Linked DNA regions of Homo sapiens: all the other regions are reported to be linked to region 4. Evidence: microRNA targets listed by miRTarBase, many of them from high-throughput screens and not tested one by one. Region 4 holds a microRNA gene; each other region holds the end of a gene's coding sequence.
What was found. Region 4 holds the annotated microRNA hsa-miR-508-5p (UACUCCAGAGGGCGUCACUCAUG, at 3,195-3,217, opposite strand). A microRNA usually pairs through its seed, bases 2 to 8, with sites in the 3' UTR of a target mRNA and lowers its output. Matches are read on the target gene's strand: a 7mer-m8 pairs with bases 2 to 8, a 7mer-A1 pairs with bases 2 to 7 and ends in A, and an 8mer does both.

Region 1 (5,073 bases), not on the chromosome of region 4:
GCCTGGCGCACCGCGCGGAGAGCCTGAGCCGCCTGAGCGGCGGCGTGGCGCAGGCCGAGCTCTACCTGGCGGCTCACGGGTCGCGCCTCAAGAAGGGCCCGCGCCGCGGCCGCCGCGGCCGACCCCCCGCGCTGCTGGCCTCGGCGCTGGGCCTGGGCGGCTGCGTGCCCTGGGGTGCCGGGCGACTGCGGCGCGGCCACGGCCCCGAGCCCGACTCGCCCTTCCGCCGCAGCCCGCCCCGCGGCCCCGCCTCCCCGCAGCGCTGACCTCCACGCCCGGACCCCTGGCCACCCCGACAAGCTTCGCCGAGGTGCCGACCGACCGACTGATCGCGGACGCCGGCTGGAAGGACTACGGATCCGCAGGAAGAGGCAGTTGGGGGCCAGGGGCCCAGTAGAGGAGGCTGAGGTGCGGTCTTAGCGGCTGGTGCGTTCGAGGGTCGGTCATGGCGTGTGGGGGGCTGGTCCAGGGCCCGGGAACTCCCTTCCCTGGAGCTTCTGGCGTCTGCTGGGTCCCTAGTAAAGCTGCCACTTTCTGTTGCCGCCTCTCCCGACCATCTGGAGAGTGAGAGGTGGTAGCATCAAGTCTCCATTATAAGAGTTGGACTCTTGAGGGGGCTCAGATCCCAGGAACGGGTTGGCGGCAAACTTTTACCACTTGGAACCTGCCGCACGGATGCAGCACCCCCCATCCTCACCCCCACTTGCGTGGCCTTTCCCGGGCCCCTCGGAGCTGTGAGCAGTCTTGCCCTTGAGGATGCTGCTTCCTGGCGCCGCCCAGCTCCGTGCCTTCGGGAGGACAGAATAATGAGGCCCCAGGATGGGGTGGAGGCTGGCACAGGGCTGTACCACTGAATTCCCCCTCTAGGCCTGTTTCACCTTTGGGGAGACGGAATCCCAGAGAGGTTTAGGATTTGTTCTCTTCATACTTAGGCCCTTCTTCTTCTAGGAGACAGCTTTTCTTATGCCGTCATGCAGGTTCGCAAAAATTACAGCCTGACTCACATAACCAGGACAGGATGTCTGGCACCTGCTCACCCAGGGATCCTTACATAGCAGAACCTAGAGGCTTAACTCCCAACCTGTTACTAAGATGGCTCGGCCAGGTTGGAACCAGGTGATACCCTTTAACAGGCCCCAAGGGGGCAGGTGTGGTATCAGCTTCCAGAAAGGGGGGCCTTAAAGAGCCAGATCTGAGGTGAGATCTGCTTCTCTTCCTGTCCAGATGCCCTTCAGTCTCCCATTCCTCTGTCCCCACTGTGAATGACCTGGCTACCACATTGCTGCTCACCAGCTGAGTTAATTTCACTCTCACTTATCAGTCTGCGAAGTGGATCTCTTAACCTCCCAGAGGGGCTGTGGTGACGTTAACCCAGGGCAGAGGTCCTTCTTCTTCCTCACTAAATCATGGAAAGATAATTTTTTTGTTGTTGTTGTTTGTTTTGAGACAGTGTTTCGCTCTTGTTGCCCAGGCTGAAGTGCAATGGTGCGATCTTGGCTCACTGCAACCTCCACCTCCCGGATTCAAGCGATTCTCCTGCCTCAGCCTCCCAAGTAGCTGGGATTACAGGCATGTGCCACTATGCCCATCTCATTTTGTATTTTTGGTAGAGACCGGGTTTCTCCATGTTGGTCAGGCTGTTCTTGAACTCCCGACCTCCGGTGATCTGTCCGCTTCGGCCTCCCAAAGTGTTGGGATTACAGGTGTGAGCCACTGCACCTGGCTGATAATGTATTATTTTAACTCACACCTGGAAACAGGCACTGCTTTTGCTGATAGAGCCATGAGCTAATTTAAAGTCCTACTTTTGCAGGGTGGAGAGGGGATTTCTCAAGGTCACATGCCAGTGAGGGAAGAATCAAGGTCCCTGGCCTGTGTGTGCACCTCCCACAGTACCCTGGGCAGGGGCTAGGGAGAGTTGTCCTCTGGATCCTGTCTGCTCTGTGACTTAGAACAACTCTGCCCCCTCTCTGGGCCTCTTTCCTCAGTCCCTCCTTGAGTCAGGGCTTGGGAATGGGGTGAAGTGGGGAGGATGCTTCCTTCCACAGGAATCTGGGAGGGTCAGGTGCACTGCTCTGATAGGCTGAGGCTTGGGGCCCTTATGGGATCCTCCCTCATCAGCCCTTCTCCCTGGATACCAAACTTTTTGGCTGGTTTCTCGGCTAACAGCAAGGCTTTCCTGAACCCTTTCTTAGCTGGGGAAGGGAGGTTCAGGAGGGAGTCTCAGAGCCTCTGACAAAGTTAGGGAACCCCAGGGAAGTAATGAAGGGGGCAATGCCATCCTCTGGTCTTTCCAAACAGGGAACACCTTCCAAAGCCACTTGGGTCATTTGGGGTCTAGAGGCTTAGAGAGGACAGGACATCTTGGAAAGAGCTGAGCTCAGGCCTTGGTGCTGGGCTGCAGCCAGGACCATTTGTTTTCTGGGTTGCATGGGAGGGGGCACTTGGTCCGGAGAAGCTTTTAGCTAATGGTGTAAAGTGCTCGGTGCCATCACAGTTTTGGCTTTCTCCAGGATTTATTTGTAATCAGCTTGTCCCGATTTGGGGGTGGGGTGGGTGAGTAGAGAATTAGAGACGACACTGGCTAGTGTGTGTGTGTGTGTGAAGTAGAGGGTAGTAAATGGAGATTGGTCCTGGTGTCACAGGCAGCTCTGCCCCCTCCCTCCACTTCCAGATGTCCCACTGCTCCTCATCAAGCTTCCTGGCCAGGGCACACACATGTAGACTTGAACCCCAGCTCCTAGTTAGTGCTATGTCCATTACCACATAGCCAACTAACAAAAGGCACCTCCCACACCTGCCTGACCCTCCAGGGCCCCCTCTAGAAGCTCACCCGTCTGGCTTTATTCAGGCTGGGTGCGGTGGCTCATGCCTGTAATCCCAGCACTTTGGGAGGCCCACGAGGGCCAATCACTTGATGTCAGGAGTTCAAGACCAGGCTGGCCAACATAGTGAAACCCCTTCTCTACTAAAAATAACAAAAATTAGCTGGGCGTGGTGGCAGGTGCCTGTAATCCCAGCTACTCGGGAGGCTGAGAAAGAATTGCTTGAACTCGGGAGGTGGAGGTTGCACCGCACTCCAGCCTGGGCAACAGAGCAAGACTGTGTCTCAAGAAAAAAAAAAAAAAAAAAAAAAGCTCACCCGTCTGCCTCCATTTTCTTCTTAATTAGCAAATATTGATAGGGGCTCAGAAAGCAGAGCCAAATCAGAGGAGGGTCTCTACTTTTAAGGGCTTATGTCTCCTGGCTCTTTTCCAGGCAGGCTTTTCTGGCTGTCACCATCCCAGGGGATCCCTTGGGGGCTGAGCAGTTTGTTGGAGGCCAGCTCTAGCCTCGGACAGAAGGCTGACCCACCCCTTTTCCCCACATGACTTTCAGAACACTTTCTTGGTGGCCCCCAGCTCTGGGGACAGGACTGAGTACAGGGATCTTGGGGGACCTGTGCATTGAGGACACTGACGGCCACCAATGAATTTATATCTCAGCAAAGGGAAATGAGGGGGGAACAGGAGCCTTTCTTCAGGCTGGTGCTTGGGGCTGGGAGACCAGTTCAAGGTTCTAATCTGGGACCTGCCCCTCAACTGGATAACCATGTGAGCGTTGCCACCAGAGGGCAGTGTGGGGCTGCTTTCTCGAGACGAAGGGGTGTGGCCTGGAGGAGGTTCAGTCCTTTATTGTTCCTGCCCCCAATCATCCCTTTGCCCGGTAGTCCCCGGGGCTTCCTAGACCTTGAGCTGCAGGGGCCTGGGAGAACGAGCAGGGTAGTCGCGGTCAGCGCAGCCCTAGAGTGGGAGTGTAGTTCTGGGGATAGCTTCCTGGGTGGAGTGGGACTAGAGGCCAGAGCTGTGCCCATCACCGGCTCCCTAGGGGCGGGAACCCTCTTTGAAAGGGGAGCAAGGCCGGGTGCGGTGGCTCACACCTGTACTCCCAACACTTTGGGAGTTTGAGGCGGGCGGATCACGAGGTCAGGAGATCGAGACCATCGTGACTAACATGGTGAAACCCCGCCTCTACTGAAAAAAAAAGGGGGGAGCAAAGGAAGCTCCTTTGGTTGGGCTGAGCCTGGAACCCCAGGGAGAAGACCCATTAGGAAAGACTTCCAGAAAAGACAGGTAGCCCTTGTTGGGGTCACTATCAGGATAAAAGACCAGAGTTATTTTGTATTCACAGATTTGTTACACTAATTGATCAGAACCCAGGGTCCCACTGCCAGTGGTGGCCAGTGTTGCCTCTTAGAGATTAGGCTGGAGCCACAGAACCTGGCCAAGGTGGTCCAAGCCTGCAGCCGCTCCCCTGTTGGTGGGTTCTTCAAGAACAACTCGGGTGCTTAGGCTTCTCAGAGCTGAAGGAGAGGCCTGCTGTCATGAGAGCGGTGCAGGAGGAGGTATTTGGGAAAGCCTGGAGATCCCCAACCTACTTCTTCCCCCATTGGTCCTTGACTGCACCCTGGCCAGGGGCGATGGGGGAAGGGAACTCTTGGTTCTGGAATAATATCTTAACCACCTCCTCTATGCCAGGCCCCTGAGCACTTTACACCCATTAATCTGTTCCGGTTCTCCCAACCACTCTGCAAAGTAAGGGTTATTATTCCCATTTCCACAGGTGAAGAAACAGAGAGGGAGGGCGGGTGACTTGCCCAAAGACATAGGAGCTATAAGTGAGGGATCTCTTAAACATTAGGATATATGGTGATTCATTTATCAGGCTAAAGAGAGGTCCGTTTAGGGGGATATCTGGGCTCCCACATTCAAGGCTGTGTATAGTGACCCTTGGTCCTTGGGTATTGGAAGGGACATGAGATGCTGGAGGGGTGGCAGAAGGTGCCCCTCCCAGAGTTTGGGCACACCCCAACCTGGCTGGGCCCTGGGGGTGAGTCAGGCTGAGTCAGCAACCTGGCTTCTGAGGAGGGTGGGCCAAGGATGCTCAGGGCTCAAGCCTCCCAAGGGCTTGCCTTGGAGGGCTGCCTCCTCTCCCTGTAGATCTGGGCTGGCTAACAGGGTGAAATCCCATCTCTACTAAACATACAAAAATTAGCCGGGCGTGGTGGCATACCCCTGTAATCCCAGCTACTCC
Region 2 (5,076 bases), not on the chromosome of region 4:
AGGGTTCTAAAACCAAGGTCCAAAATTAAAAATAAGAAAATTATTTAAAGGTAGGGGGATAGGACAAATTGGCAAAAAGTTGGTTACTTGTTGAAGCTGGGGGCTAGTTACACTATTATTGTGTATACTTGAGATTTTCCATAGGAAGTTTAAAAAAAAGTGAATTAATTTAGGAGAGAGCACCTATATATACTCCAGATCAGCACTGTCCAAAAGAATTTTCTGTGATGATGGCAGTGTTCCATATCAGCACTGTCCAATGCTGTACCCACTTACCATAAGGGTTTTGAGCACTTGAAATATAGCAAACGCAACTAAGGAAGTGAATTTTTCATTTTATTATCATTTTTTAAATATTTTATTTTTTGAGACAGAGTCTCACTCTGTTGCCCAGTCTGGAGTGCAGTGGTACGATCTCGGATCACTGCAGCCTCTGCCTCCTGGGTTCAAGCAATTCTCCTGCCTCAGCCACCCGAGTAGCTGGGATTACAGGCACGTACCACCACACCCGGCTAATTTTTGTATTTTTGGTAGAGATGGTGTTTCATCATGTTGGCCAGGCTGGTCTTGAACTTCTGACCTCAAGTGATCTGCCTGTCTTGGCCTCCTAAAAAGCTGGGATTACAGGCGTGAGCTACCGCACCCAGCTGAATTTTTCATTTTAAAATGTAAACAGCCATATGTGGCTAGTGGCTACCATTTACACAGTGCAGCTCTAAATACTGGAAGACAGCCATGCCACCTTACTACCAGAATTTGAAGTTAATAAGTAAGCTCAGGCATCAAGTCAGCCCGCCGAGCCTCTTTCCCCTTTTTGCTAATAGCAGTATCTAGTATCCCAATCCCATTCCAAGCTCTTTTTTACCAGAAGTGGGGCAAGAGATCCGGGCTATAGTACAACTTCTTCCTGGCCATAGTGACTGGTCCAGGAAGAAAATAAGCAGAGCTCGGATCCTCATAATCCTTGCTTGGAATTTTCTCTATTACGAAGTAAAGCAGCTTCTTCAATTTGGAGTTGTAAGGAGGGAACCCCAGAACTGCTGGCCATCATGTTCATTTGCCACTCTTAGAATAAAACCAAAATTAGGATAAAAGACAGAGAGACAGTCTTGCTTCTCAAGTACTTAGATCCAGTCAACCCTAAATTCAGCTCCATCCCCTTTCCCATGTGTCGGTTAGGTAAGCCAATAAATTCCTTGTTTATGCTATTAATAGTATTGAGTTAAGTTATATCACTTGCAACCTAAAATAGTCAACGCAAAGCCCCACTCAGTCTGGGCAACACAGTGAAATAGGTTCTCTAGCCAGGCATGCCTGTAGTCCCAGCTACTCGGGAGGCTGAGGTGGGAGGATTATTTGAGCACAGGAGGTCGAGGCAGTGAGCAGTGATTGTGCCACTGCACTCCAGCCTGGGTGACAGAGTGAGCAGTTTACTGAAGCCTTGACCTCTCAGGCTCAAGTGATTCTCCCACCTCACCTCCTGAGTAGCTAGGACCACAAGCGGAAACCACTGTGCCTGGCTCTTTTTTTTTTTTTACAGAGATGGGGCTTGCCTAGGCTGGTCTCCAACTCCTGGGCTCAAGCAATCCTCTCGCCTCAGCCTCCCAAGCAGCTGGGACTACAGGCATGCCACCACGCCCGGCTAATTTTTTTGTATTTTTAGTAGAGACAGGGTTTCACCATGTTGGCCAGGCTGGTCTGGAACTCCTGACCTCAAGTGATCCACCTGCCTTGGCCTCCCAAAGTGCTGGGATTACAAGTGTGAGGCACTGTGCCTGGCCTTGATTTTTAGTTGAGATGGGGTCTCTCTATGTTGCCCAGACTGGTCTCCAACTCCTGGGCTCAAGAGATCCTCCTGCCTAGGCCTCCCAAAGTGCTGGGATTATAGGCATGGGCCATGGTGCCCAGTCCTGCTTTTTTTTTTTTTTTTTTTTTTTGATACGGGGTCTCGCTCTGTCCCCCAGGCTGAAGTGCAGTGGCGTGATCTTGGCTCACTGCAAGCTCCGCCTCCCGGGTTCACGCCATTCTCCTGCCTCAGCCTCCCGAGTAGCTGGGACTACAGGCGCCCGCCACCACACCCGGCTAAGTTTTTTTGTATTTTTTAGTAGAGATGGGGTTTCACCGTGTTAGCCAGGATGGTCTCGATCTCCTGACCTCATGATCCACCTGCCTCGGCCTCCCAAAGTGCTGGGATTACAGGCTTGAGCCACCGCGCCCGGCCCAGTCCTGCTTTTTTAAATGAAAAGATTCACCCAGATACTCACTGAAATAAAAAAAATTTTCAGCTAGACTAAGCAGCAAGAATTATCATATTACCAGTAATGGGCATAATATTCTGGGAGGAAAAAAAGTCACAAATCAGTCAGATTCAAGGATCAACCTGTTTAATTGTTCATATTTTATTCCTGTATCAGTAGATTAAGAAAGTAAAATTTTCCCAAGCACTGATTTATAGATCATGTTTATAAGCAGCATACAAAAAGTTAAGTTTCATAAACAATAACATTCAGTGATCTACTTAAATCCAATTGTAATCCTTACTTTAAACTAAGGGCAATAATAATTTAATACATAGAGTAAATACACACAAAACCTGTGTATTCAGAACTACAAACATGGTTTCCATAGCCACGTATGGTTTTAGTCAAGGACACATTTCCACAATGAACAAGTACTTACAAATATGTTAATAAAACACTAACCCAAATGCTTACCCTGCCATCAGCTTTTTAAACAATGCCATTCCTGCTACTGAAAGCATTTATTTTTAGAAGCTTGAATCTGCTCTGGGAAAACGGGTTCTCCTAAAACTTAACAGGATGTTATAAATCCGAAAAGATTTTAAATCAAAAAGCCTTCCAACACAGCATTATTCATGTGAAACTTGCTTTCTTTTTTTTTTTTTTGAGACGGAGTCTCGCTCTGTCGCCCAGGCTGGAGTGCAGTGGTGCGATCTCGGCTCACTGCAAGCTCCGCCTCCCAGGTTTACGCCATTCTCCTGCCTCAGCCTCCCAAGTAGCTGGGACTACAGGCGCCTGCCACCGCGCCCGGCTAATTTTTTGTATTTTTAGTAGAGACGGGGTTTCACCGTGTTAGCCAGGATGGTTTCGATCTCCTGACCTCGTGATCCGCCCGCCTTGGCCTCCCAAAGTGCTGGGATTACAGGCGTGAGCCACCGCGCCCGGCCCGTGAAACTTGCTTTCTTAAAAAATAATAATAACTTGTTATCTGAAGAAAATTAAAAGATTATCTTTTAAGAGAGATAAACATTCTTACAAAAAACTATATTTTCCTCTATCATCTCTTTAAAAGAAATGCAAACCAGTTCATTATCTTTGTTTTTTTGAGAGTCACACTCTATTGCCCAGGCTGGAGTGCAGTGGCGCCATCTCGGCTCACTGCAATCTCTGCCTCCTGGGTTCAAGCAATTCTTCTGCCTCAGCCTCCCAAGTAGCTGGGATTACAGGCACATGCCTCCATGCCTGGCTAATTTTTTAATTTTTAGTAGAGGTGAGGTTTTGCCATGTTGGCCAGGCTGGTCTGGAACTCCTGGCCTCAAGTGATCTGCCCGCCTCAGCCTCCCAAAGTGCTGGGATTACAGGTGTGAGCCACCACGCCCGGCCTAGTTCATTATCTTTAATAATGAACTAGACAATAAACTAATTGTTGTCTAAAAACTTCTGAATACATGAAGTACAAGTCTGAGCTGTCAAGTCAAAAATGCCATTTAGATTTCACATATTAAACAGCTATAGTAGGCCAGGCGCGGTGGCTCACACCTGTAATCCCAGCACTTTGGGAGGCCGAGGCAGGTGGATCACGAGGTCAAGAGATCAAAACCATCCTGGCTACCATGGTGAAACCCCGTCACTATTAAAAATACAAAAAGTTAGCCAGGCGTGGTGGCAGGCGCCTGTACTTCCCAGCTACTCGAGAGGCTGAGGAAGGAGAATCACTTGAACCCGGGAGGTGGAGCCTGCAGTGAGCCAAGATCACGCCACTGCACTCCAGCCTGCCAACATAGTGAGACTCCATCTCAAAAAAAAAAAAAAAAAAAAAAAAAGCTACAGTATAGCTTACAAGGGCATAAACATACCTAACACATTAAATACTACTTTATCCTTTAAATAGTCAAAAGTCAGAACAACGGCATGGTTTGCAAGGTACTTTGACTTATGTGTGGTCATTAAAACCCAGTAAGTAATTCAAGTATGGTAATATAAAGGCAGGCAATTACATGCACCAATATCACCCTAAAATCAAAGGCATAAAAATAAAGGCTGAAAACTTTGTGTTTCTCCATCTTTCATTTACATGGCTAGATATCAGAATCTTACTTTAGAAAATATACAATTATTATATATGGTTTCCCCAGATGGTAATTTTCGGAAACTACAAAAAGTGTCAAGATCCATAATTTGCTTCATCAAATGCTTTTCTAGCTCGTTTCAATTCTTCATTCATAGTAAGCAAGTCTTTAACCCTGGCAAACTTCCTTGGGTCCTTTCGAATCAAGAAGACGATATCTTCAACTTGTACTCGACCTTGTCTTCCAATTGACATTGCCTTGTGAGTCTATTACAAAGAAACATATTACATTTAACTTTTTTAAATCTAATATTTTACTGTTTTAATTTGCATTTATTAATTGCAAGTGAGGTAGAAGATTTTCTCTTATTATTATTATTATGGCTATTCATTTGTGAATTATCTTTCTACTCATGTCCTTTGTCTATTTTCTACTGGATTATTAGCAATGTTCTCCTTTATGCTTCACAGGCACTTTAAAAAAAATCTTAAGGACATGAAAGCTGTCAACTTTATTGTTCCTTTTTTGTTTTTTGATATATGTAGATTTTGTCTTCATTTATATAAAATAATTTTATAATTTTGTGTACCCACCCATTTCATTTATGCTTTGTGTCCTCCTCTATCTTAATACCCAATAAATATTGGTGGGTTTTCTAAAAATCAAATAACTCTATCTCATCCTGTCATTATATACTCACCTGTGCAAAATCAAAGACCTATCACAGCATTATTTCTAATGATTAAAAAATAGAAGCTAAATACTTA
Region 3 (5,076 bases), not on the chromosome of region 4:
TGATCCACCCATCTCGGCCTCCCAAAGTGCTGGGATTACAGGCGTGAGCCACCGTGCCCGGCCGGATCTATTCTTTTCAAACGAATGAAATGTTAACTTTCTTGGTACACTTCCTTGGTATAATGCTGAACTCGTATAGTAACTCAAATGGGTATCTGCATAGATACAGGGGTTTTCGTTTTGTTTTTCCAATTTGCAGGAAATTATAGTGACTAGCGTAATAAAAACAATCAATGACTTGGGAGACAAAGGAATCCCTGAGTATCTCTCCTCTCATGCCCTGTGAATGAATAACAACTTTATGGCTTAGAGTCCTCCTGTCTTCCCTTTTCACCCCTCTAGTCCCTCCTCCGTCCATTTCTTGAAGGGAACTATGAGTGTGATAGAAGGTGGAGTGGGGATTCCCTGTGGCCTGAAACATTTCTTGCTTAGTCTAACTCAAAAGATCCTTTTTCATTTGTTACCAAAAATGTATTAGGTCCCTGTTGAAGGCTAGGCATGGGGTAACTGGTAGGGGAATACAGATATTTTTGAGTTCATAATCTGGTCATGTGGGAATTGCTATCTTTGTGATTTTGATTATTTCTTCCAGATTATTTTATTCAATAAATCTAGGAGACTCTGGGTTTTAAGGAGTCAGCATCTAAAAGTGATCTTGCAAGCCATGCAATGAATACTCAAAGTGTAGAGTAGTCCACAGAAAGAATAGGGAAAACCTAACATTTCTGTAAGATTTAAATTTCAGTATAAAATCTGGAACATTCTACTCGCAGTAGTATTTTAAATGTTGTATTTTCGTGAGTTTGTTAACCTTCGTTTTTTGTTTTTGTTTAACATTCTTGCATTTTAAATCAGGTGCAGCTATTGCTGGAGTTTACCGAGCAGCAGGGAAGGAAATGATACCATTTGAAGCCCTCACACTGGGCACTGGACAGACATTTTGCGTCTTGGTGGTCTCCTTTTTACGGATTTTAGCTACTCTATAGCATACATCCTTATGCTGAGATGTTGAACTTAAACTTTATGGAATCCTCCAAAAGAATACATTATGGAGTGTAGTGTTTTCTTAGTTCTTCAAAGGGAAGCAACTTGGATGAACAGGAACATGAAGGACAACACATCTCAGCCTTTTCTTCATTTTGAAGCTCCTAGAATTGAAGACTTATGTGGACTCCTATTGTTCTCAACCAAAACAAGTCTTTTGGCTTTCTTTTTTGTAGATATTTGATTTAAGCAGTTTTCATGTGTACCTTTACCCAAGCCAAGTCAACAGTGTCTCTGGGGTGGCATCCTTTGCACTGAAATTTACAGTATTCTGTGAGATGTCGCATATTTTGAAGAAACCGTGGAAGATACTGGTTTATTTCAAATGAGCAGAGTATGTTGTATTAAAATCTTATCTAATCTTGATTAAAATTTGGCAAACTCTTTTCTTTGCTACATCTTAGTGACAATAAATGCCAAATAGGTTTTGGTTGAGTATAGTTTTGAAAACAAATTTGGTGAAATAAAGCAGGAAAAAAAATTTAAGTATAACTCAAGTAGTGGCTTTGGTTCCACTGTTTATAAATAAAAAGTAGATAACAATGAATAATGTGACATTTTCTGGACAACTGTCTTGACTTCTGATTAAGATATTTTAAGAGATGTGAATTTGTTATTTTGTATGTTTTATCAAAATAAGCTAGCTAATTTAGACTTTTTAGATTTTCTGTACCACCTTTCCCTATCACTTTTAATTCTCTTAATTTTATTTCATTTAATTGGAAACATACATACCCTATTAAATGGCTTGAGTTGGAAATTTTAAGCCAGATTTGTTTGGACATTGAGGCACACATAAGATACTTTAGGCATTCTGTCATAGTTTTTCTTAGTGACTTTGGTATACTAATGACCCTTGAGAAACTATAGAAGTGCATCTGAAACTAGAGTTAGTGGTTATTGATTTTTTAGCTTAATGTGTTTACCTAGTGGTAACTCTTCAGCCCACTTTTACAGTATTGGGTATCAACTCCCAGAAAGTGCCTAAAGTTTAATGTTCAGATATGTACCCACTCTCCCCTTTACATTTTTATTCAAAAGAATTTATATCTTTAAAGAGATTTAAATATCAAGAGTTTTTTTAAAACTTAATTTTAGCTATTTAAATTTTTATTCTACTGCCTAACTTTCTTTTTCATTAAAAGGCCTGAAAACTGTGACTCTTTGAGAGGGAAAGAATCGCAGAAATTAAGTATTTAATGTGATCCTTTCCACCTAAACTGTTTTGTATGGAATACAATCAGTGTGGTGGTAGTGGTGGTGGTTATCTGCAAAATAGTTTCTGGTGATTAAATCTGACTTTTTTTTTTTTTTTTCTTTTAAATGAGACGGAGCCTCACTGTGTTGCCCAGGCTGGAGTGCAGTGGTGCAATCTCAGCTCACTCCAACCTCTGCCACCCGGGTTCAAGCGATTCTCCTGCCTCAGTTTCCTGAGTAGCTGGGATTACAGGCACCTGCCACCGTGCCCGGCTAATTTTTGTATTTTTAGTAGAGATAGGTTTCACCATCTTGCCCAGGCTGGTCTTGAACTCCTGACCTTGTGATCCACCCGCCTCGGCCTCCCAAAGTGCTGGGATTACAGGCGTGAGCCACCGCGCCTGGCCATAAATCTGACATCTTTAAAGGAAAGTTTTCATTGTGAGATTAAGGCTTAACAGCCCATGAGGTCATATACACATGAACGTATCTATTCCATTTAAAGCAATACACACTCTGGCTTCTGATTAAAAATAGCCAGGAGGAGAGTCTCTGAATCTACTGTGATTCTGGAGTCTGCCCAATTTGGAAAAAAAAAAAAAAGAAAAAAGTCAGGAGGACCAATTTGCCAGGGAAACTCATAGAAAAGAATTACAAAGAGATCACAAAAACTGGACATATTCTTTTGACTAATTAGACCACTTATGGCTGGGCGCAGTGGCTCACACCTATAATCCCAGCACTTTGGGAGGTCGATGTGGGAGGATTGCTTGAGCCCAAGAGTTCAAGACTGGCCTGGGCAACATAGTGAGACCTTGTCTCTACTACAAAATAAAAAAAAATTAGCTGGGCGTGGCCTCAGCTACCCAAGAGGCTAAAGTGGGAGGATCACTTGTGCCTGGGAGGTTCAGGCTGCTGTGAGCCGAGACCACGCCACTGAACTCCAGCTTAGGCCACAGGGCAAGACCCTGTCTTAAAATAATATTACTAATTTTGGTAATTAACTTATCAAAACTATAGTGACATATACACGGGCAGAAACTTATAAGTAGAGTTGTAATGCAGCCAAATATTCTTACAAATTCCCTAACAAGAAGCTCAAATCTTTCTCACAGGCAAATTGTAAAAATTCTAGTTTTTTGTTTAAAGAGCTGTGATTTTCAAAAGTATCCCTTCAGTTTAAGAAATCTGGGGAATTGGTAACTTTTCTTATGGGAAATGATTGCCATCATCTCTACTGAAGGATGCCTCTTACTGAAAAATGTCTTTTGAAGGAGTTCTTGCCTAAAGCATTCTTTGGATGTAATTTCATACACTAAACATATAGACCAGTAGTTAGTGGGCCCCTCCTCTTAAACAGTAACTTTTGAAGTACTGATACATGATTAAAATGTTAGATATTTTTCACTGGAGCTAAGACTTAAAATTAGGGCATTTTGAAAGGTGTATTTGTTTCTGTTTCTTGTTTGATATATTTTGGTTATCTACTCTTTTAAAAAACTAAACGTATAAAAGGTATCTTCAAATTACTGAGTGTTTCATCCATCCCAGTAGGTGAAGTATTCTCCAGTGAATAAATCTATATATATATATAGATTTTAAATAGCTTGAGCGGTGTAGCTTGAAATGTTTTCAGGGAAAGACTATTTGAATCATAAGGAATAGCTTTGATTTTCTTTTTTATGTCTCAAATATAGAATTATTTGGGGGTGGTCACTCAGATGGAAGAATATTGGCAATTGTGTTGAACATTTTACCTTATATAGTTTTGAGAATTTTTGCCAAAAACTGATTTCTTAGAAATATCCTCCCCCAGCTGTGCTTTGGTTTTTTGGTTTTTTTGTTTTGAGACGGAGTCTTGCTCTGTCGCCCAGGCTGGAGTGCAGTGGCATGATCTCGGCTCACTGCAAGCTCTGCCTCCCGGGTTCACGCCATTCTCCTGCCTCAGCCTCCCGAGTAGCTGGGACTACGGACGTCCACCACCATGCCCAGCTAATTTTTTGTATTTTTAGTAGAGACGGGGTTTCACCGTGTTAGCCAGGATGGTCTCAATCTCCTGACCCGCCTCCACCTCCCAAAGTGCTGGGATTACAGGCATGAGCCACCACACCCGGCCTCTGCTTTGTTTTTTAAAAAAAAAGAAATGCAAGAGAGGGAGGGAGGCAGCCTCCTGACCATAAAAGCTGATTTCTTGATTTTTTTTTCTTTTTTTTTTGAAATGGAGTCTTGCTCTGTCTCCAAGGCTGGAGTGCAGTGGCATGGTCTCAGCTCACTGCAGCCTCCGTTTCCTGGGTTCAAGTGATTGTCCTGCCTTGGCCGCTGAGTAGCTAGGATTACTGGCACCCGCCACAAGGCCCAGCTAATTTTTGTATTTTTAGTAGAGACAGGGTTTGATTATGTTGGACAGGCTGGTCTCAAACTCCTGACTTCAAGTGATCCACCCGCCTCGGCCTCCCAACGTGATGGGACTATAGACATGAGCCATCATGCTTGGCCTTCTTGATTCTTGAATACGGGGTTTTGAGGTGAAAGCATTTCATGAAAACTTAAGTTCATACACAAGAGCATCATGAATATTCTAAAAGAGGTATCTGTGCTTTTTTTGTGACCACAAAATATTACTTCTTATGAAATGTTTACACTAGGTGAGGAAAAGTTCATTAATTACCTTTAAACCGTTCCTTATTTTTTTTAAGATTTTAAATTGTATTTTGGCTTTTGCCTCCAGTATCCTTTCTGGTTGCTCTGGTTTGAATTAAGTTCCTATTATGCTGCAGCACATATCAACCTTCCCTAAGTAACCATTTCCTGGAATGTGAAGCATCGGTGCCATTA
Region 4 (5,076 bases):
CCAGCCTGAGTGACAGAGAGAGACTCCATCTCAAAAAATAAAAAATAAGAATCTGGAAAATAAAATCTAATCCATAGTGAATAAAAGCAGATTAGTGGCTGCATGGCTCTGTGGTTATGTGCAGAAGACCGAAAATGAGGATCACAAAGAGGCAGGAGGAATCTTTCAGGGAGGATGTATAATATTCCCTATTTATTTTGATTTAGGGGATGATTTCATGGGTGTATAAACAGAATATGTCAAAGCGCAAACTTTATGTCAGTCATGTATCAACGACGCTTTTTAAGAACTAAAGCTATCACAATACAAAAATCTCAAAATAACAAACACATGCTCATACACACAATTCAAAAAAACCATATAAGCTAAAAAAAAAAAATCAATCAACAAATAATGCAAATTATCCCTAACAAAAGAAAGAAATTTTAGCCTTATGTACCAAAACTTCTATAAATGATTTTTTAAAAAGTAATGAATCAGAAAAACAGGGCACAAATAAATAAAAACTAAAAAGTAAACCAATAATATATTTTTAAACCCCTATCAACAATCATCCCAAATTAGAAAAGCTCAACAAACAGGATTAAAATAAATAAATAAATCAACTACAACAAATTCCAAACAGAATCAATACATGAACTTATCAATTAGAAAGCATGTTGCAAATACCAAACCATGTAAGCATACACACAGATACTGAGGCAAAACATTTAAAATCCAAGCAAACTCCCACAACTTAAAAAAAAAAACACATCCCCAATAAAGCGCACATATATATGAAAGACAAAACTTTCTGAGCCCCACACAATTAAAGGGGAAAAAATAACTACAGCAACAAAACAAAATTCATACAAATTTAAATATCCCAAAACACAAGGAAAATGAAGAACCCCCCCCCCCCACACACACACACAAAATAAAACAATAAACACAAACTGAAACTAAAAATACATGGAAAATAACAAAATACTTTAAAGAAGTCAACATCATTCAAAAATAATCACAGAAATGCACGCATACACACCCACATCCATCCACCCACCCACCCACTCACATATACACACAAAAAGTCAGCTGAAAAGCAAATAGAAATACACTAGAGAATAAAACAAAGAAAGATATAGCAAAACAGCAGGAAAGAAACAAACATGTCTAAATACACAAAGGAAACTACAACTAAAACAACTCCCAAGCACCTCTCAGTACAAATCAAACCAAACGCATAAATTAAAACCAAATCAAAACCAAAGAAGAAAACTCAGATTGGAACCAACAACTAATAATTAAATCATGACAGCCCCCTCCCCCCGAAACAGGAATAAAACATTTGCTGAAACACAAACCACAATTCTAACTTAAAAAAAAAAAAAAACTTCAAGTATGCAACGAAACAACAAGCAGAGGTGCCATGAACACTGAATTGCAAACAATAAAAAATCACACTGTACCCCCAAAATATGTACAATGATTATGTGTCAGTTAAAAATAATAATACAAGCAAACAAAATAAACAAATAAACCTAAAAAGGAAGAACCAACTTTGAAAAATAAATGCACAGAGACTGGAAATGAAAGGACAATTATAAACAAAATAATATCACAAAAAACAAAAACAAAACCAAAATCAGACAGTTACCAATGTCTGGATAAACAATATTACTAAGCAAAAACAATTTGAAAAGTCCCCCCAAACCCAACCACAATATGCACATGAACGAATCAACTAACTAAATTAACTCATTTGTAAAAACCAACACACACATACTCACACACAAACTCACACCTTCTCAAAAATAAGCACAAATTTGAGAACAATTTGCAGTGGTGCCACTGTCACTGCCCCAGACACACATCTAGGGTGGTGAGACTTTCTGCCCAGGAAAACTCTTAGAGCTCATGAAATAGGGAAGAAGATACCATGAGCAGTAGACACTGGTTGTACACAGGCGATAATGTAGTAGTATTAGTGATATAAGAGAAGAATACCCTTCCTCTTGATTACAATCTAAATTTTTGCCAAGATTTGGAACGGAGTGAGACATGTCACTGACTCGAGATGACAACAAAATTCCATAAACTTCAACTTGCCCACTTAAGGTGCTTTATGAGAATTAATCCGGAAGGGGTCACCAGGATGATTACCCTCCAACCCCACTCCACCTCCATTTTTCCAGCACCGTAGTGTGTACAACCTGCTTCCTAGTCACTGCTCCAGTCTGAAGATGTTCTCCAGGGATCCGGCGCTGGCCATCTTTTGTCTGTGATTCTCAAGTTTTCTTTCTGAAGACCTTAGGTTAAGAAGGAGCAACTGAAGGGAAGTGGAAGGGAAAAGACAAATATATATGTTATCATTCTCAATAATCTGAGATGAATACCTTCACTTCTTTTTATTCCTTCATATAATTTTAAAAATAAAATGTTAAATATAATTCAAAGAAAACTAACAAAACAAATATTCTAGGCAACTTCTTAACCTTTTATAGATATGTTGAATTTAGAAAGGACTGATATACACATATTTTCAATAAATATTTTTTAAAATATACATATAAATATTTTTTAAAAATATATACATAAATATTTTATATATATATATATTTTTTTTTTAACCAACAGATAGATAATTTTGGAAATAATGTATTTTTCCAAGTAAGGAAGAACACACAAACTCTTAAGGAAAGGCTTGTCTTCAATCCTGAAAGAGCAAGAGCTTTTTGGTGCAGAGGGATGCTTCTGAGGCAGGAGGGAATTTGAAGAGCCCACTGGGAAATGAAAAGGCTTGGAAGCTAAAAGAAATGTTGTGAGGAAAAATACGTTGGAGGTTTTTCAAGGCAAAATGAATAGTTGGGCTCTGTAGCAGTAGAAGCTCTGAATATAAAAAGAGGAAAAGCCACATCCTCACTACAAATTTTCTTACCTGTGTGGGCATGCCTCCTTTGGACAAGGGTATATAAATCCCCGGAAAGCCTACATGGGTGATTTTTCCTGGGAGCCCTCAGTCCCTAGGATTTGCCTTTCAAGACCTGCCTATGGGAGTCCATTGAGTTAGCCCAGCAAGGGGAGGGTGGTGCTTGGACACAAGGGAGGGCAGCTCTGTGCATGCGGCTGTATACACTCACACCCATGGCCACCAAATATGCGTTACGTGATGTGTATTACTCTACTCCAAAAGGCTACAATCATGTTTTAGTTTACATGAGTGACGCCCTCTGGAGTAGGGCACTACACTCAGCTGAAGGTGGTGGCTCTACCCAAATATATACGTGAAGTTTAGATACGATGAAGAATTTCTAGTATGTTTGCCACTCCATTCCCATTCTCTAACCATCCTTTAGTGAGGATACTCTTACTTGCTGCATATTTCATGTGCTGATTTTGAGGACTTCTTCTCTTCAGTCGGCAACAAATAATCTCACCAACATTTTCCTATGTATTTTCAAGTCATTAGGAATGGCATATTAAAAATGATTTGTGTTCCACCAGTGTTAAAGGTCTCCCCACCCTCTGTGCCCCCAAATTCCTAGTCCCTTGGTTCAGAGTTATTTAACTTTTAACACCAAAACAACAGAGAGAACAAGGTAAACATGCAGAGAATTCAAGCAAAAGAGATAGATCATTTAGGCAGTGCCAGGATTCATAGGACAAAAATCTCATTTTCTCCACCATTCCTGGGGATTATACAGATCATTTACCTTGCCTGGAATCATTTCCAAGAGAGCAATTGGCTTAGAACCTAGTTATATCTTATTCTTCCTTCTCAGCCCTGGACTTTCTCAACATTTCCTAGAGTTCTTGTCAAGAGGGTCTCTTTCAAAATTTTCATTTGGAGACACAGGCCTCCCAGGAATCTATTTTTTCCTTTCAATACTGAGGCTGAAGAAAGGGGGAAGCAAGTAGGAGTAAGAGATCCACAGACCCCAAACTAGTTATATTTTAAGAGCTAGGGAGCCAAGTTAAACAAAAGACTGTAAAGAGAGAGGGAGGTGCACTGAATAAATTAAAGGATTAGCTAAATTACTTGCCATGGAGCAAGAGAAAGGGAGATTATGGTGTGGGACATTTAATCTGGACATGTCCAGGTCTCCCAGCATTCAGGAACCTCCACCAGTGTCAGTAGTCCAAAATGACCCAAGTCTACAGCTACACACCAATAAATCAAAACTCAAACAAAAATATTTCTAAAATCAATTCTACCTCATAAATAAGTGAAACAATGCTCAATATCACTAATTAGGGAAATGCAACCAAAACCACAATGTGATACGACTTCACACCCATTAGAATCAATATTATCAACAAGCAAACAAACAGAAAATAACAAGTGTTGACAAGTGAAGAAATTATAACCCCGTGCATTGCTGGTAGGAAAGTAAAATGGCACAGTCACCACAGAAAACACTATGGTGGTTCTTCAAAAAATTAAAGATATAATTACCATATTTCAGCAATTGCAGTATTGGGTATATACCCAAAAGAACTGAAATCAGTATTTCAAAGGGACATAGTGCCCCCATGTTCAAAGCAGCATTATTTATAATAGACAAAAGGTAGAAGCAATACAAGTGTTCATCAACAGATAAAGTGATATGCAAACTGTGGTATATGCATACAAGGAAATGTTATTTGCCCTACAAAAGGAAATAATTTTCTTTTTAAACTGGGTTTCCTTATGTTGTTCAGGCTAGAATCTAACTCTTGGACTCAAGCGATCTTCCTGCCTCAGCCTCTTGAGTAGCTGGGACTACAGTCATGTGCATACATGTCCAGCTTAGAAATAAAATTCTGACACATGCTATAACATGGATTAACCTTGAAGACAATATGCTGGGTAAAATAAAGCAGTCACAAAGGAATACTACTGTATGATTTTATTCTATTCAGTCCCTGGAATAGGCAAACTAGGAGAGACAGAAAGTAGAATAGAGGTTACCAAGAGCTGGGAATGGGGAGTCAGTGTTTAATGGTTACAGAGGTTTAGTTTGGGATAATGAATCATTTCTGGAGATGGATTGTGGTGATCATTGCACACCACTGTGGATTTACTTAATTCCACTGAATTTTACACTTAAAATGATT
Region 5 (5,076 bases), not on the chromosome of region 4:
GTAAAAAAGACAATACGAGATTAAATATTAAATATTTAATAAAATGATTAAATATTAAATATTTAATAAAATGATTAAATATTAAATATAGCAGTGAAATTTCAGAGTGGGGCAATTAACACCAGACCTCCAGTCTAAGCCTCCCAGATACCAGGAATCACTTCAGACACATGAATTTGGTAGTGGTGTACAGGGTGAATTAAGGCCCACTTAGAAGACTCTTGCAAATAATCCAAGAAGGAGCTCATTATGTAACCCAGGATCCCCAGGTTTTTGGGGGTATGTGCTATGAAAAAGTATCCACCTGTAACTGTTGCACCTTGAGTTCTTGCTGTTTCAAAAAGTTCCAGGAAGATGGGAGGCCAAGGTGGGTGGATCACCTGAGGTCAGGAGTTCGAGACCTGCCTGGCCAGCATGGTGAAACCCCCCTCTACTAAAAGTACAACAATTAGCCAGGCATGGTGGTGCATGCCTGTAATCCCAGCTACTAGGGAGACTGAGGTAGGAGAATCGCTGGAACCCGGGAGGCAGAGGTTGCAGTGAGCCAAGATCGCGCCATTGTACTCCAGCCTGGGTGACAGAGTGAGACCCCGTCTCAAAAAAAAAAAAAAAAATGTATTAGCCTGGTGTGGTGGCAGGTGCCTGTAATCCCAGCTACTTGGGAGGCTGAGGCAGGAGAATTACTTGAACCCAAGAGGCAGAGGTTGCAGTGAGCTGGAACTGCACCATTGCACTCTAGCCTGGGCAATAAGAGCAAAACTCGGTCTCAAAAAATAAAAATAAAAAATAAAATTTTTAACAACCAATTATTTTATCTTAGGATAAAAATTTACCATATAATTTTTAATACATCAATTGTATTTTCCTAAATTTATATTTTGATTAATAGACCGAAATACTTTTAGTCCTTTTATAAAACCTAAGAAGCCAAGAACAAATGTCTATGTATTTAGCAATTTTTTTTTAATTTGGATATGATCCAGACATTTAATGAGTATCATTTAACATAATTTTAAGATTTTAAAATTACATGAAAAGCTCATTTATAAATGTTTATTTCATTTATAAGATTTATTTCTCAATTATTCCTAGATTTATGAAAATTGAGATAGAACTAGTCATTGTTTTTATTAATCAGTTTTATAGACTGTTACCATGAAGTATTTATCTTGATATTAAGGTTTAAGTAAGAACCTTAAAGTTAAAAACAGCCACCCTGTTGCTAACTCAGAAAAGTTACAGCTATTTTTATTAAAACAACAATATAATCATATTTATTTAAAAACTATATAAACAAAGATCATTTTGTTTTAGGCTTTATGACTTTAAAACATCTAGCAGAGGCAAATATAAAACTGTCTGACCAGTAAACCCAGACAAAAATGTCTGCTGACAATTTTGAAGACATTTCTAATTTTATTTTATCCACAATTTTAAAACCAATTAATTTATCAAAGATTTACTTAAGTCACATCAACTAAAAAAAACTGGGGGTTAATTACTATACATTTTATATGAGTGCTCATTTATTTAAACCAATCAGAATAAAATTTGTTAAGGGATTTCTGGCTGACTACACCAGCTTTTATGTAGATACAACATTCAACATAATATATGTACATACACATAAACACATTTAAACACATATACATAAAGATATTAAAACTTTTATTTTAGAATTTTAGTCATGATATAGTAAAACACGTAAATTCACCAGTTTATAAAAATGATTAGATGCAAATTATTTTTCTGACAAAATGGGCTAAGGATAAGCTTTAAGCTTTTTTAATAGGCAATCTTATAAAGGCTGTAAATCAAATTTGGGATAAAGCAGTTTGAGTCACTCACCAGTGCACTAAATTGAACAAAAAATAGTTAACTGTGAAAGTGTGCTGAATTATGTGAGTAGGACCAAAAGACAAGAGTGATTTTTAACAAGGTTTATACAGTATTTTCTTGGACTCAATTCTTTGTCATTGAAGATAAAAATGCTGCTATTCTTTTTTGTATAGGGAGGAAGGTTTTACATGGGAATTTAATCTTTGCTTTAAAAAAAAAACAGTAGGAAGGTCAAAATGACTTTGTTTTATATCTGCTGGTTTTCAAGTGTTTTTATTTAAGTAGTATGTTAGAATAGCTGTTTAGAGAAGGATAAAGAGGGGATACTGTAAGAAGGGGAGGGGAAAGGTCTAGAAAAGAAAGTTTCAGCCACCTTTGAGACAGTATTTTTTAACAAGGCAATATTTGTATCCTGAATGTGTTTTGTTTTTGTTTTTATTTTTTTTTAGCCTCAAGATATCAATGAAATATGCATATCTTATTTGGAGTGTATGATTTTATAGCCTCCATCTTTTAGTTCAGTTTTAAGAAAAACAGACTAAATGATCCCTGTAATGTTTGAATATGTTACTAGCTGGAGTTCCAGAAAATATTCTGGCATGCCTTTGAACTTTGAGAGCTCATTTCGTGGGTGCTCTGATTTAATGTCAACTATGCAAAAGCCAAGTAAATGCAAGCACTGAATACACAAAGGCCAAATAAATACAAGACAGGACAGAAAATAAAATACATGCTTACCAGTAAGAATGATAAGCCTTCTCCAAAGAAAGGGAAAAATTCCCTCATCCAAGCCTCAAGGTCCAAACCTCGCAGCTGAGGTCAACAGGGGGAAAATAATTCTACCCAACAGATCTACCAAACAAGAGGGGGAAAGACCTCTCCCTAATCATATCCCAAATAAAACAGAACTCGAACCATATCTGAGAGTTCTGTCCAAGAGATACTTACTGGAGGGAGAAAGGATTACCTGTGAAAGTGGTGGGGGTGTAGGGGGTTCAAAGGGCCCCAACATGGGTACCTCATGCCATAACTCCAAAGGCCAATGATTCTCCATGAGGTGAGTCAGCTTTGTATCCCACTTCTGACACCATGCATGTCAAAGTCAAAATGAAAATGTAGACACAAAACTAAATTTAATGTTTTGAGAAGAAAGAATTTCAATTCTAGGTGATCTTTAGTATGTCCAACAAACAAAGAGAAGGTTGAGGGTTTTATTTAAAACTAAGAATGTTACTTGTGGTCTTTCTTTTTTTTTTTTTTTTTTTTTTGAGACGGAGTCTCGCTCTGTCACCCAGGCTGGAGTGCAGTAGTGCAGTCTTGGCTCACTGCAAGCTCCACCTCCCGGGTTCACGCCATTCTCCTGCCTCAGCCTCTAGCCTCCCGAGTAGGTGGGACTACAGGCGCCCACCACCATGCCCGGCTAATTTTTGTATTTTTAGTAGAGATGGGGTTTTACCATGTTAGCCAGGATGGTCTCAATCTCCTGACCTTGTGATCCACCCGCCTCGGCCTCCCAAAGTGCTGGGATTACAGGTATGAGTCACCACGCCCGGCCAACTTGTGATCTTAAGAGAAAGTTCATTGGTATTAGTAAAGCCCTGGGGAGCTGGCAAGCTCCAACTGGTGGGCAATGGCCATAGGTAAAATTAGTCCTAGAGTTACAGCAAGTTATCTCAGCAGCTATAGACAAAACTGGTCTCAGGTTACAGCAAGCAGTTTCAGTAGCCAGGCTCACAGAGAATTACATTCTTGGAGCAATATTATGTGTCCCAAGTACTTTTTCCCCCTAGCTTCTTGAGTCTGTTTTAGTTGGATGTGACAAGAATGACTCAATTAATATTATCAACTTGCACAATTATAAAAGAATCACCATTTTATGTAAGCACTTAGGCTAAAAAAATAGTAAAAACATCCTATGTGGCCAGCAGCCTTGAAACAATAGAATTTAGTCAAATAATGATTACCTGCATAAGATATGCTTTCCATCTAAGTAGTTTCCCCAGTGATTTTTGCCAGTATTCTAATTCTACACGGAGTAAACACAAACTGTAAATGTTAAGAAATTGCCCATGGCATAATAATCACCTTTCAAATTTCTCATATGTTAAGGCTACTTCTTAATAATTATTATTCTCTAATAATTTGGAGTTACAGAGAAAGTAAGATTCCTTCAAAGTTTGGTGAGTTTGCTGGGCGCAGTGGCTCACGCCTGTAATCCCAGCACTTTGGGAGGCCGAGGCGGGTGGATCACAAGGTCAGGAGATGGAGACCATCCTGACTAACACGGTGAAACCCCATCTCTACTAAAAAAATACAAAAAGATTAGCCGGGCGTGGTGGTGGGCACCTGTAGTCCCAGCTACTCCAGAGGTTGAGGCAGGAGAATGGTGTGAACCCAGGAGGTGGACGTTGCAGTGAGCCGAGATCACGCCACTGCACTCCAGCCTGGACAACAGAGCGAGACTCCATCTCAAAAAAAAAAAAAAAAAAGTTTGGTGAGTTTTTTTCAAAGTTTTATTCCTTAGATATTATCTGTGTAATCAGATAGACTGGGCTAAGCCACAGCCTCATTCTTTGTCAACTGGATAACTTCAGAAAAGTGTTTTAACTTCTCCAAATCCTAGTTTCTTCCGCTGTAACATGAGGATAGTCAACACTGACAAAGAAGGATGACTATAAGGATTCATGAGATACGGTGTGTAAAGCTAGCCTCATTCATGGCAATGGTCACTGCTCAGCAAGAGAAAGCAGCCCTTATGACTATATTGCTGAGATTTTATTAACTAACCTTTTGCCCTATTAATTTCATGACCCCTTTTTTAAACAGGTAAGTGTCAGAAGAAGATCCTATAATGTCAATGTGTGTCCTATAAAGGTTAATCAGGACTTCAAGGTATCTCGAACTTAATTGTTCACATGCCCTTTTGATCATTCTTTTCTCTCTATTTTCCTTTCCTTCCAAAATAAATGTCTCTTTTCTAAGCTTTAAGTAAAGAGCATGTGACCATTCCTCAATGAGCTCTTTTACATGTTTTGCATTGTTTGGCTGAGAACCAACTTGAATGCTTTTTAGACAAATTGTGGTGATTTCACCATCCACTTTCTCCTGACTCAGAATGTGGAATTTTTTCAGTGTGCTTTCATAAGATCCACACTTGTGTTTCAGGTAAAGAAAAACATCTGTGTCAAGCACAAGCATTTCTCCACTTCTAGCAGTCTCAGGTACTAAGGTCCTGAC
Region 6 (5,076 bases), not on the chromosome of region 4:
TTGGTAAGGAATACTTTTATTTCATGGATCCCAGGCAGGCATATAAAAGTTACGGAATTTATAAAATCATTTGGGATAATTAGAAAATGCAATTATTCATAACAGAAAAATAAAGACTTTCTAGAAAGCTTCTGACTTTGTCAATCATGGCTCTGTTCTTAACAAAGCACTCCTTCCTGAGAATAGTCCTAAGTGACAAAGTTGTTTCAGTACTTTTTTGTAAAATATTTAAAACATTTTAAAACCCTAAATTGATATTCTTAAGAAACTCAAGATATCATTGGATATTTACTGCTTCCTCACTCAGTATTTAAATTTGGTTGTACTTCGGGGGAAAACAACAGAGTTATTATTTTGCTGCTTACTAAATAGCAACTTCTCTTGAGCATTATTTGCCTTGTTTGTAAAGTTAAAACTGCGTAAAACAGTAATTCTGGAATAAAACATACATTCTGCCTACCTCAAAGAAATATTCTAAGAACAAAAGGAATACTATCCATGAAAATACTTTCATTAATGTAAAATTTTCATTATTTAGACCAGCCTAGGTTGGCAAACTTCTTAAAGGGCCAGATAGCAAATACTGTTATTCTTCGTGGGTTTAGGCAAATTCAAGACTATTATACAGGTAACTATGTAACCATGTAAGACTTAAGTACACTTAAAAAATGTGAAAAACCATTCCTAGCTTCCACTACAACAACAACAAAAAACAGGCAACCAATCCAACCAACCCAGCCTGTAAGTCTCCATCTCTTATCTCCAAAATAGGAATACAAATTGAGTATCCTTTATCTGAAGTGCTTGGGACCAGAAGTATTTAAGACTTTGGATTTCTTCAGATTTTGGAGTATTTGCATTATACCAGTTCAACATTCCTAACCCAAAAATCTGAAATCTTAAATGCTGCAATGAGCATTTTCTTTGAGCATCATGTTGGCACTCAAAAAGTTTGTGATTTTCGGAGCATGTGAAATTTCAGATTACCAGATTAGGAATACTCAACCTGTAGTACATTTACTAGGATTATCAGAATTAAATGATAGTTAATTCATACATAATTATACATCATATAGTATCTAATACAGCTCAATAAACAACAGCTAATATTTACTGCAAAAACAGAGGCAGCAAGGTCACTACTTAACAGGTGATATATGGATCAAGAATCACTGCTCTTAACAGTGATCTCAGTAAATTAATAGAAATGCACTCCTAACATGATTTTTACCTATCTCTTGGTTGTGGGATTGACTTTCTAGACATGATCTACATTTTTTTAGATAATTTCTAGACAAAAATGTTTGGCTTTAAGACAAATGCCACTGGGTATCAGGCTAGAGAATACACCTCCAGTGTACCTGGTATACCTTGAGGATAGGAGAGGAAAAACTGGCTATGAGACGACAATTACTGAAGCTGAGTGATGTGTACATGAAAATTTACTATTCTTTTTTTATATTTGAAATTGATGAGGTGCTGGGAAGCTGGCTTTCTGAGGGGACAACAGGAGGGGAATTCCTTGATTTGCTGCATTTATCACTTTCCATGGTGTAAAATACTCCTGCCATGGCCAATTTGTTATTGACATATCACTAAAGGCAGAGTTGGAGAGAGATGTGCAAAGATGGCTCCCAACTAGAAGATACCACTTTCTGTAATCAACTTTTTATAATGAAGTTTAAAAATATTAAGCCCTGATACATTATAGGGTAAAAGGAAATATTCATATAAATTAATTTAAAAATCAAAATACAAGGCTGGGCACAGTGGCTCACACCTGTAATCCCAACACATTCTGGGAGACCAAGGAGTGAGGATTGCTTGAGGCCAGAAATTTGAGAACAGCCTGGGCAACACAGTGAGACTCTGTCTCTACAAATAATAAAAAATTTAGCCAGACAAGGTGGCACACACCTGTAGTCCCAGCTCTCAGGAGGCTGAGGCAGGAAGACAGCTTGAGCCCAGGAGTTAGAAGCTGCAGTGAACCATTATCAGACCACTGCACTCCAGCCTGGCCAGCAGAACAAGACTCTGACTCTTAAAATAATAAAACTACAAAGCTTATGTTTACTCTAGCTGGCCTCTTATCTACCACCACCATCCCACCTCAGCCCAGTTTGAAATGCAATTCCACAGTAAGTAATCCCTCACGTTAAGCTTCATCTTAGCTTTATTCCTTTGTATCTGAGAAGCATTTTTTAACTTTCCATATATTATTCAAAATGGGTGACCAAATGAACCATCTATACAATCTTTGCTCAATTAAAAATATCATTTCTACTTTCTTCATTGTGCTTGGTTTGGATATTCCAAACAATCAATTTAACATTATCCTAGCTACTTACAAGCTTATACTTTAAAGAATCATACTGAGGTGCTTTTTCATATCAAATTTACCTGTTTATTCATTCCATAGCAAGCAGGATATTCACTATTTAAAACAAATTTAAGCAGATTTCTGTTAGATTTCTTTAAATCACTGAAAAGTAACACAAAAATACATATAGGTAGTAACTAAGTACTGACAAAGTATTCTACCTATGCAATATCCTATTAAATGTCTAAATTACCATATGTAAATTTAATTGTATTATTTACTCAATGGGGAAAATCTGGATTACAGAACTGAGGAAAATTATGTTTTATGTAAATTATAAAAGGCCAAAGTCAATCATGTTGAATAAAATAATTTTGAAATATAAGCCAGTAATATACCATATGAGTATCCCAAGAGAAACCCTGGATAGAAAGAAACTTTTAAAGTCACTCTTTTTTTTTTTATTAGTAATGTTAATGTTTGAGCTCAGTGTTTGAGCATGCTGGTTTTACCTATTTATGCTAATTTTAAACCAACAATTGAAGTGAGAAAATAATCATTTATCCTTGAAAGTATCTTTAGCATGGTCTTCCTAATTAAAAATACCACTTAAAAAAGTGAGGCAGCAAAAGCATGAACTGGAGTCAGTGGTCTGTCTGGGTTAAAATTGGCCCCACGATTTACTACCTATGACTTCAAGCAAGTTGCTTAACCTCGCACTTCATCCCACTTCATTATCTCATTTGTGAAATAGAGGTAAATAATTAACCCTGTACTCACAGGGAATACCGAGATTATGCATGTAAAGTGCTTACAGTGCCTAGCACATAGTAAGTGCCTAATAAATGTTAGCCATAAATATTATTGTGGGTATAGAAAATCAAATTCCCTAGTTGCAAAATGTATGCACTAAATGCTGAATATCAAAGAAGTCAAAATTCAACCACACAAGTCTTAACAGTTATAGAGTCTTTGCATGGACACAGTTTCGAAGCTAAAAAATGAGAACCTAATATTACATGCAAGTTATGTGACTCATCAGTAAATTCTTCCTAGAAAAACAAACTATACCACTTGTCAGATTCTTCCAGCATAAGCCTGAGTCCCCTTGCACCTATAATTAGATTCTTATTTTACTATCTTTTGCGTATCTTGTATTAATTTTACTTGGTTGATAAGATGTTGAAGAAACCATGGAATTATACACAGCACTATACATTATTACTATAGAATGTCTGGTCCCTCCCATCATAAATATGGTTTAATGAAGTTATTGAAAAACTTCACAATATCGAGCTGCAATTCTTTTTTCTTTTTATACAAATACAAGTTAATTAGCTCTATTAAGTTGCAATTTTATTTTTATAAAGCTTTGTAAAGTTATGAACATGGAAACCCTAAGAATCACCTAAGCTTTTTACATAAGTAAATTTCAAGTTGACAGTCTGTCCATTTTGAACTATTTATAATTAACAGGACACTTAACACAGTAATATCTTAGACAAGGAAGAGGGCATTAATTCTGCAGGCAGGTAGCAATGAAAATGCCAAACCTGAACAATCAGTCACTATTTCCTTATACAGTTTGAGTAAAAGAGGTAGACTACAGAAAGAAAAAAAAAAGTGAATATAAAATGTATCTTCCCCAAATACAACTCTACTTCAATAAGTCTTGAAGATTACCGATGACATCAACAAAAATGAATGAACTCAGGGAATGAGTTCTTTCTCCCCATCAAAGAAAAAAACAGCATGTGTAATTTTAAATTTGAAAAAAAAAAAGAATGGCAATTTGCAAGCAAAAGAAAACCAGATTCACATTCTACTATTTACATTTGTTCTATTCACAGGTCAAAAATAAAATATTTCATTAGATAATTTAAAAAAAAAACACTTTTTTAAAACAAATGTATTTTACTCCATCAATACTGCAAGGAAGATAACTGAATTTAGAAATGCTCTCTCTCTACAGCAAAGTTAACTTAACTTTTCGGGGCCCAACTGGCCTATCATTTAGATCTTTAATAGCAGCCATAGCTTCATTATAGTTTATCATAGCAACAATGGCTTCCCCTGTAGGTAAGCCTTGCTCATTATACTGTATCGAAACTGAATCAGGTATGATTCTGTAACCATGGAAAAAGTCTAAAATTTCATTCACATTAGCTTTAAATGGAAGATTCATTATCTTAATAGGAGTTACTCTACCTGAACCACAATTTATTTTTGGATCAGGCATAAATCTCCCCTCAGGAAAACTTCCCATATTATGCTTTCCAAAATCAAACTTGCCACCTTCTGGGCGACCAAAATTCACAAAAGGGCGGTGACTTCTAAAATCATCAGGCGGGCTCCTAAAATCCTCACCAGGAGGTCTAAAATTGTCAGGAAGTCTAGGGTCCTCCTCCGGAGCTTCCCTAAGGTCTTCCTCTGGGAGCTGCCTGAAGTCCTCATCAGAAGGGCATCTAAAATCTTCCTCCTGGGGGCTCCTGAAGTCCTCATCAGGAGGGTGCCTAAAGTCTTCATCAGGAGGGCCCCTGAAGTCTTCATCTGGTGGGTGCCTGAAATCTTCCTCTCGGGAGCGCCTGAAATGCTCCTGAGGCGGCCGCCTGAAATGCTCCTGGGGCGGTCTCCGGAAGTGCTCCGGGGGCGGGCGCCTGAAATGCTCTGGGGGTGGCCGCCTGAAGTGCTCTGGGGGTGGCCGCCGGAAGTGCTCTGGGGGAGGCCGCCTAAAATGCTCTGGAGGTGGTCTCCGG

Region 1: the mRNA of TRNP1 is a reported target of hsa-miR-508-5p. The part of its 3' UTR that is shown has no 7-base or 8-base seed match.
Region 2: miRTarBase lists TAF13 as a target of hsa-miR-508-5p. The part of its 3' UTR that is shown has no 7-base or 8-base seed match.
Region 3: miRTarBase lists TMEM170A as a target of hsa-miR-508-5p. Seed matches in the 3' UTR shown: 7mer-m8 at 2,398-2,404, 7mer-m8 at 2,811-2,817, 7mer-m8 at 4,117-4,123 and 7mer-m8 at 4,485-4,491.
Region 5: the mRNA of RBM43 is a reported target of hsa-miR-508-5p. Seed matches in the 3' UTR shown: 7mer-m8 at 4,276-4,282 and 8mer at 4,199-4,206.
Region 6: the mRNA of RBM12B is a reported target of hsa-miR-508-5p. Seed matches in the 3' UTR shown: 7mer-A1 at 4,236-4,242 and 7mer-m8 at 2,007-2,013.

Annotation. Positions count from the first base shown.
Region 1 is chr1:26,994,205-26,999,277 of GRCh38, forward strand. It overlaps TRNP1 (TMF1 regulated nuclear protein 1), which reads left to right. Exons shown (of 2, transcript NM_001013642.3): 1 at 1-408. The coding sequence ends at 266. Among named protein-coding and RNA genes, the nearest start is that of TRNP1, 3.0 kb to the left of the region's middle. RefSeq lists enhancers at 3,358-3,963, 3,474-3,768, 3,721-3,780, 3,791-3,910, 4,692-5,073.
Region 2 is chr1:109,060,119-109,065,194 of GRCh38, forward strand. It overlaps TAF13 (TATA-box binding protein associated factor 13), which reads right to left. Exons shown (of 4, transcript NM_005645.4): 4 at 4,022-4,575. The coding sequence ends at 4,405. Among named protein-coding and RNA genes, the nearest start is that of TAF13, 13 kb to the right of the region's middle.
Region 3 is chr16:75,443,468-75,448,543 of GRCh38, reverse strand. It overlaps TMEM170A (transmembrane protein 170A), which reads left to right. Exons shown (of 3, transcript NM_145254.3): 3 at 856-5,076. The coding sequence ends at 986. Among named protein-coding and RNA genes, the nearest start is that of CFDP1, 13 kb to the right of the region's middle.
Region 4 is chrX:147,233,786-147,238,861 of GRCh38, forward strand. MIR508 (microRNA 508) reads right to left here and starts at 3,242; the gene lies at 3,128-3,242. All of the region lies in intron 2 of LOC105373347 (periphilin-1), which reads left to right.
Region 5 is chr2:151,246,289-151,251,364 of GRCh38, forward strand. It overlaps RBM43 (RNA binding motif protein 43), which reads right to left. Exons shown (of 4, transcript NM_198557.3): 4 at 1,652-5,076. The coding sequence ends at 4,618. Among named protein-coding and RNA genes, the nearest start is that of RBM43, 13 kb to the right of the region's middle.
Region 6 is chr8:93,729,119-93,734,194 of GRCh38, forward strand. It overlaps RBM12B (RNA binding motif protein 12B), which reads right to left. Exons shown (of 4, transcript NM_001377960.1): 4 at 1-5,076. The coding sequence ends at 4,287. CIBAR1 (CBY1 interacting BAR domain containing 1) reads left to right here. Exons shown (of 9, transcript NM_145269.5): 9 at 1-2,409. Among named protein-coding and RNA genes, the nearest start is that of RBM12B-AS1, 8.5 kb to the right of the region's middle.